Linked DNA regions of Homo sapiens. The protein of the gene in region 2 interacts with the protein of the main gene of each other region in a biochemical or structural test. Each region holds a gene or a part of one and is shown on either strand. Other genes may lie near its edges. The genes, in order: ITGB1 and ITGA9.

What was found.
Region 1: the proteins of ITGA9 (region 2) and ITGB1 form a complex in vitro, tested with the Homo sapiens proteins (one study listed by BioGRID).

Annotation. Positions count from the first base shown.
Region 1 is NC_000010.11:32,902,757-32,906,298, forward strand, and holds part of ITGB1 (integrin beta-1 isoform 1A precursor), read right to left. Parts: intron 1-3,542.
Region 2 is NC_000003.12:37,818,947-37,821,715, forward strand, and holds part of ITGA9 (integrin alpha-9 precursor), read left to right. Parts: coding exon 1-43; 3' UTR 44-2,769. UniProt on the Homo sapiens protein: Integrin alpha-9/beta-1 (ITGA9:ITGB1) is a receptor for VCAM1, cytotactin and osteopontin. It recognizes the sequence A-E-I-D-G-I-E-L in cytotactin. ITGA9:ITGB1 may play a crucial role in SVEP1/polydom-mediated myoblast cell adhesion.

The DNA.
Region 1 (3,542 bases), on a different chromosome or scaffold from region 2:
CATTGCAGACTGTATTTGGATCTGCCTTTTGGTGGCACAATTTCTGCCCTCAAGGAAGGTATAGTTTGGTGGGTGAGAGACATGAAAATAAGGCACTCTGATGAAGTTTACAATAGAGTTATGAACATAATCTGGGAATAGTATAAGAAAAAAGTTATTAACTTTAAGAAGATTAAGGAGATTTTCATTGTGAAATTGACTAGAAAAATTATTGGTTGGTAAATAGCAATCTATGCAAAGTCAAGGTGTAGGGAAAAGAATGGGACATTTAAGTAGAAATACATACAGTTCAGAAGTTTCTAGAGTTAGGGGAGGGCAGGCGCGGTGGCTCATGCCTGTAATCCCAGAACTTTGAGAGGCCGAGGTGGGTGGATCACTTTTGGTGAGGAGTTTGAGATCAGCCTGGCCAACACGGTAAAACCCCGTCTCTACTAAAAATACAAAAATTAGCTGGGTGTGGTGGCGGGTGCCTGTAATCCCAGCTACTCATGAAGCTGGGATAGGGGAATCACTTGAACCCGGGAAGCGGAGATTGTAGTGAGCTGAGATCGCACCACTGCACTCCAGACTGGGCGAAAGAGCAAGACTCCATCTCAAAAAAAAAAAAAAAAAAAAAAGAGGAAAAAAAAGAATTAAGGGGGCATATGATTGGAGGTGAGGAGACAAAGGAAGAACAGTCCTAGAGGCCTTGCTATGAAGTCTGAAACTTCATCCTGTAGGTATCCCATACCAATGAGGGAAAAACATTAACATATAAAGGCTGGGTCCTGCAAGACACCAAATAAACCACTGTGATTTCAGCTCAGCAGCTCATGTGATACCAATCAGAACCAGACAACATACCTCAGCCCTCACTCCCCTCTCCTCAAAATACACCTTGACTGGTTGTTTCAGAAACATGGACAAACTCAGGATCCCTCAGAGACAAACAGCATATAATGTGGATGACAAAACTGTGTACATCAAACTCTCAGCTCTAGTCCCAACTGAAGCTAATACATTATACAGCTGTGAGAGCAGACATTTCAAAATGGGGGTCAGGAAACTGGATTTTGGCAACTACTATCTTAAAAAGCCAGAGTGCAAATAAATTACACTCCACATTTATATCCTATCTGATTTGAGGCTAAGTGCTACACATTCCTTCAAATATGTTGGGAAAATAAATTAGCATCTAATTAAATTTCTTTAATACAATATATTTGCTAAATCTAGTATTTAATACTCAAGAATTATAAGGGAAGGACAAAAAAAAAAAAGAAAACAAAAAATAAAGAAAAAAAGCCCTATATAGATGAGTCCAAAGTGTAATTTATATGGAAGAACTTACCTTTGGAGAAAAATCTGTCTTGTCGTATACACAAACATTTGTATTTATTATTTCAAAGTCCACTCAAACAAAAGTTTAACATGCAAGGTTAGAGGTAAAATTAAGCTCACTATCTGTATTAGGCATCATTTTAAATGAAGGTAAACTAAAATAATTCAAATTAGTTTCCATCATTCAGAGTGCAACACCACCCCACCCCAAAAAAACCCGCAGCAAGAGAACAGGGTTATATTATGAAAGGAAGCCCTCAAGCTCAGTAAAATGTCATCTTTGTGCTCACTCTGGAATGGCTGACAGTGGTAGCTGCAGAACCATCTCTACAATGTATTAAATACATAATGCAGAAGTGTGGGAGATTTGGGAGCCACATTTAAACCCGCATAGCAGCAGATGAGGACAGACCATTTTTTTAACCCACTCCAACAGTTAGAAGCTGATAATGTGACATGTTCTTCTTAATGTTCCTACATGGTAGTCTTCTGCCAAAGTAATTAGCGCCTGCCCATTATTTCAAAAATTTCAATGACATAATTGACTGGCAAACCTTGGTCCATATCAGAAAAGTTTCTTACAATCCATGATGTAATTTCTTGATGCTCATTCATTTATTTCAATTGTTAATTTCTACTTTTTCTTGAGAAAAACATCTCTTAAAATAATCTGTAGCCATCAAATTGCCTGGACTTCAATAATGCATAGAGAAATTTTTACCAAACTTCTGCTTCCTGAATTACATAAAATGCTTATTTTAGCAACATTTTAGCCATATATACATTATAAACATTAAGTTTAAATAACATTTACTGATAATTTCCTTCAAAATACAATGAAAGGTACAGCAAGGGTGAAAATTTCACCTCAGTAGGACAGAAATTTTTTCTCTTGTGAGAAATAACCACATGAAATTGTCAACATTTGACTATTTTTGACCTACAACTAAAGAAAAAAATATGTATTAAAAAAAAAAAAAAGCCTGGCAATGTCATTGGCTAATCAGTTTTCCTCTAAAAATGACTTTCTGTAAAGTACTAAGTGAGAACGAGAAAAATATATTGTCTCAGACTAATACAAATATGTACCAACCTGCCCATATGTGAATTTGAATATAATTTTCTGCCATCAAATTTAACTTTAAAAATCTTACGGTCTACTTAGAAATAAAAATCTGACAAGTTAATGATTTCTAATGTTATCAGCACTTCCTATATCACTTGTAACTATTAAACATTCCTGTACTGTAGGCTCTTATTCATGATCAGTTTGTAAGCACACTCTCAATAGTCAAAAAACACAACAACAGCACTGGGTTCCATGTATTAAAGTGATTTCCCTAACATGATGTTTGCCAACAGCAGCAGTGTTAACTCTGACAGAGTAACAACAAATTGTAAAAGGGCTGTAAATCTCTATAAAGAGTGATCTACCTCTTCCTAACCAGGTAACGGGACTTCTGAAGATACATAACTGCTACCAAGTACAATGTCATAGACAAGAACATGGACTCTGGAGCCCAACTGCCTGGGTTCAAATCTCAGCTCTCTGACTAACCAGCCGTGGGAACTCGGTCAAGTTACATAACCCTTATGTGTCTCAGTTTTCTCATATGTAAAACATTCCTACAACTTTCACTATGAAGATTAAACACAGATTAAGTGGTCAGAATCATGCCTGAGACACAGTGATTTTTATGTAAGTGTTCCCAATACCATCTTTATCTGCACAATAAGGTAGGCAGTGAGAAAAGCAGAAATCTTCCAGGCCCTATTACAGTCAGTCAGTTGGGAAAGAGAAGAAGAGTTCTCAACCACCAGTCAGGAGAATTTAGTTCTAATCACAATTAACCTTTGTTATCAGAGTTTTAGGGGCTTGCATGATTTTATTAGAATATGCTGGAAGCATTTCATGAAAATTCAGATATGAACAGTTACAAACTTACATTTGAAAATTAGAATCATTCTCACATACACACACAGACACACACACATATATATATAATATACATACATATATATGGTCTTCTGGCTTTTAATGAAATTTCAAGTTATATTCAAGAAATTGATCTCAAATCTTTTGAGAACCAATAATGATATTGTAGTTGCATACCATACAAATATCATAGTAGGTTATATTTTTCTATTTTGCAATTTGGATTTCGTGATCAATTTTCACTATCCAACCCTAAAATTTACTCATAACAAATTTGTTATTTAAG
Region 2 (2,769 bases):
AGAGAATGAAGACAGTTGGGACTGGGTCCAGAAAAACCAGTGAGCTGCCACACCAGTCACATGACCTGATCACTAGCCTGTCATCCTTGGTCTTTGTATCTTCCATATTTGGAAGAAAAAAATCTTCTCCAGATTTTTCGGAGGCCCCACTGATGCTGTTCTCTTCTTCATTCTATCAAGCCCAGGTGCCAGCCTGAGGCAGCCACTTCGGCCAGGTCACACGACCGGGGCCAGCACCACTTCCTTTAAAGATGAACTCTGAACTTTGGAGAGTGAGCTACAGAGCCGAGCAATATTTATGGATGCAACACGCATGGTCAACCCTCAGGGGAAAACTGTTACCTAAAGTATTTTTATAAATATAAGCCTTTTATACTGATTATGTCTTTTATATTTGTATCGATGTTTTATTATTTCTATTAAATAGTTATATAATTCACTCAAGCACTGATATCTGGCCTAAAATCTTGGAAGTACATGTCCATGAATACAAATTTTAAAGGATGAAAATCTTACCGTACTTTGGAACTTGCTGTTTAAAAAGACAGATGAAATAAGTTGAAGAAACCTCATGTAATGAATCCACCAGGCTGGCAGTGGTGCATATAAACTGTGGGTGTGGCAAGACCCCGAAGACATTTCACATCTTTATCGCCTCGATCAAGTGTGGAGTCACATGCTAATGTGTGCTAAAGAACTGTAAGTGTTTTTTCATATGTACTTTTCATTGGAAGATTCCCAACAAGAATTTGGATGGAAAACCTGATCCCTAGCAAGAAGTCTGCTCTGTATCACCTTTATATAGCAGACATGTCACCCTGCTTCTACACAGATGATGGATGAAAGCTTGGAGCAATGCCATGTGGTCATCTGGTAAACCTCAGAATGGCGTCTCATCCTGGACATCCTGCATCAGAGTTCACACACCACAAGGACTAAATCCTTGTCCCCTAAGCAAAGAATTGGGTCTGAATGCTGTGAGGGATTGCCTTTTTGTGGTAATTTTCATTGAGAGATCTTCATTTCCCCTACCACCCTGGCTGTCCCAGCTAGTGGTGATTGCAGATTCCTTCCCAGAGAGGACATTTAACCGTTTTAAAAAAAATGTCTTAGATTGGGTTCCCAAGAAGCAGTCCCTGAAACAAGGATTTGTGTGCAAGTAACTTATTAAGGAAGTATTCCCAGGGGATACCAGTAAGAGAGTGGGGGAAGCAGGACAAGGAAGGAGACAAAGCCAGGCAAATGTTTGTCATTTCAGGGAGAGCTCCATGAAGTTTAGCCTCAGCCTGATCAGGGGAACTCCGGAGGAAAAGTTAGGCCTCAGAGGTGTCCCAACCTGAATCAAGGGGCTGGCTGCACCCAGAGGAGATGTAAACGTTTTATTCTCAATTCCTGCTGGCGTAATGGCTCCAGTAGCTCAGGACAGTCCTCTAAAGGACAACCACAGATGCATCCTCAGCCAGGGGAGACACAGGGAAATGATGCAAAAGAAATGATGCAAAGGATCTGAGCAGAACACTGCCCCTCCCCACCCCCTGAATGTGTGAGTGCTGAGTTACGGCCTTCAGTATCCAAGCTCTCTGTTTGACAGTAGATATATTGTCAGATGCACTGTGCTGCTTAGTTTTGAGTGCAGTGTGATTTTCTGAAAGGGCAATGAGATGATGGATGTAGCATGCTCAGCACTGACCTGGCCCATAGTGATCACTCAATAACTGTTAACAGCTATGGCTGCTATTCCTACTGATGGATAACCATCTAATAAGACAGAAAACATGGGGCTAAGAGCAGGGTCTAACGGAGTCTTAATGGCTTATTACAGCCTGCCAAAGTGCCAGCTACATACACATGGCATCCAGTGCGGATGAAACAATCTATAAAACCAAGGGTCTTTCTTATAGCACCTTTTTTACTGGAAGCTAACACGTTGGGAGTCCGTGAACATTGTCAAAAAGACATCAAACTCAACTTCTGGGAAGACAGATTTTTAATACACATACTTGGCTAATACTCACAAACATATCTAAAGTTTTGGCAAAATTATGAGGGTGATGGGTGGGTACTAACCTGGCATGGAGCAGGTGTGTCTTTTGGTTTCTTATGCAGTTGACTCTGCTGCAGGGAGATTACAGATGTAACCTCATGCTTCTCTTCCTGGTGAACATGGGAATAGACCAAAAAAATCAAGGGTCAATGGCATGAACTAAGCTGATCCTGGAAATCAGGGATGTTGCATCTAACTGTGGGATGGAGGCACAGAGGTAGCTACAGGGAGCAGGACGAGGCAAAGAAAGCAGCTGTCACTCAGAGTTCGCTTATGAGTTTTATCAAAAGCAGCAAGAAAAGCAGTCTTGGGTGGGTTTTATCACTTATTAACAGCCATTTATGAGGCCCCTGCTGTGTGTCAGGCACTGTGCAAGGTGCTGGAGGTTCCCCAGAGAACACTTCAGGGACATTTTGCCTCAGGGTGGCAAAATGCAGTGGCATGTGGACTTTTTGAATGGGATGCCATTTGCAGCTTTCCTTTGATGGACTCTTGTTCATAATGCCATGTTTTCTTTAATGAATCATTTAGGATTCTTAGGTGATATTTCTGGAACAGCACCATCAACAGCTTTGGCCACATGCACTTAGAGCAACTAACTTGCCTCCTGCCGGGGTGTAGGTGCGTTGGTGACAGTGTAGAAGGGTGATTCGCAGGCCCATGTTCTGCCCACCAGCAAAGCCCCACTGGAGAAGGGTAGACTCCTGTGGGCAGTCTCAGAGCTG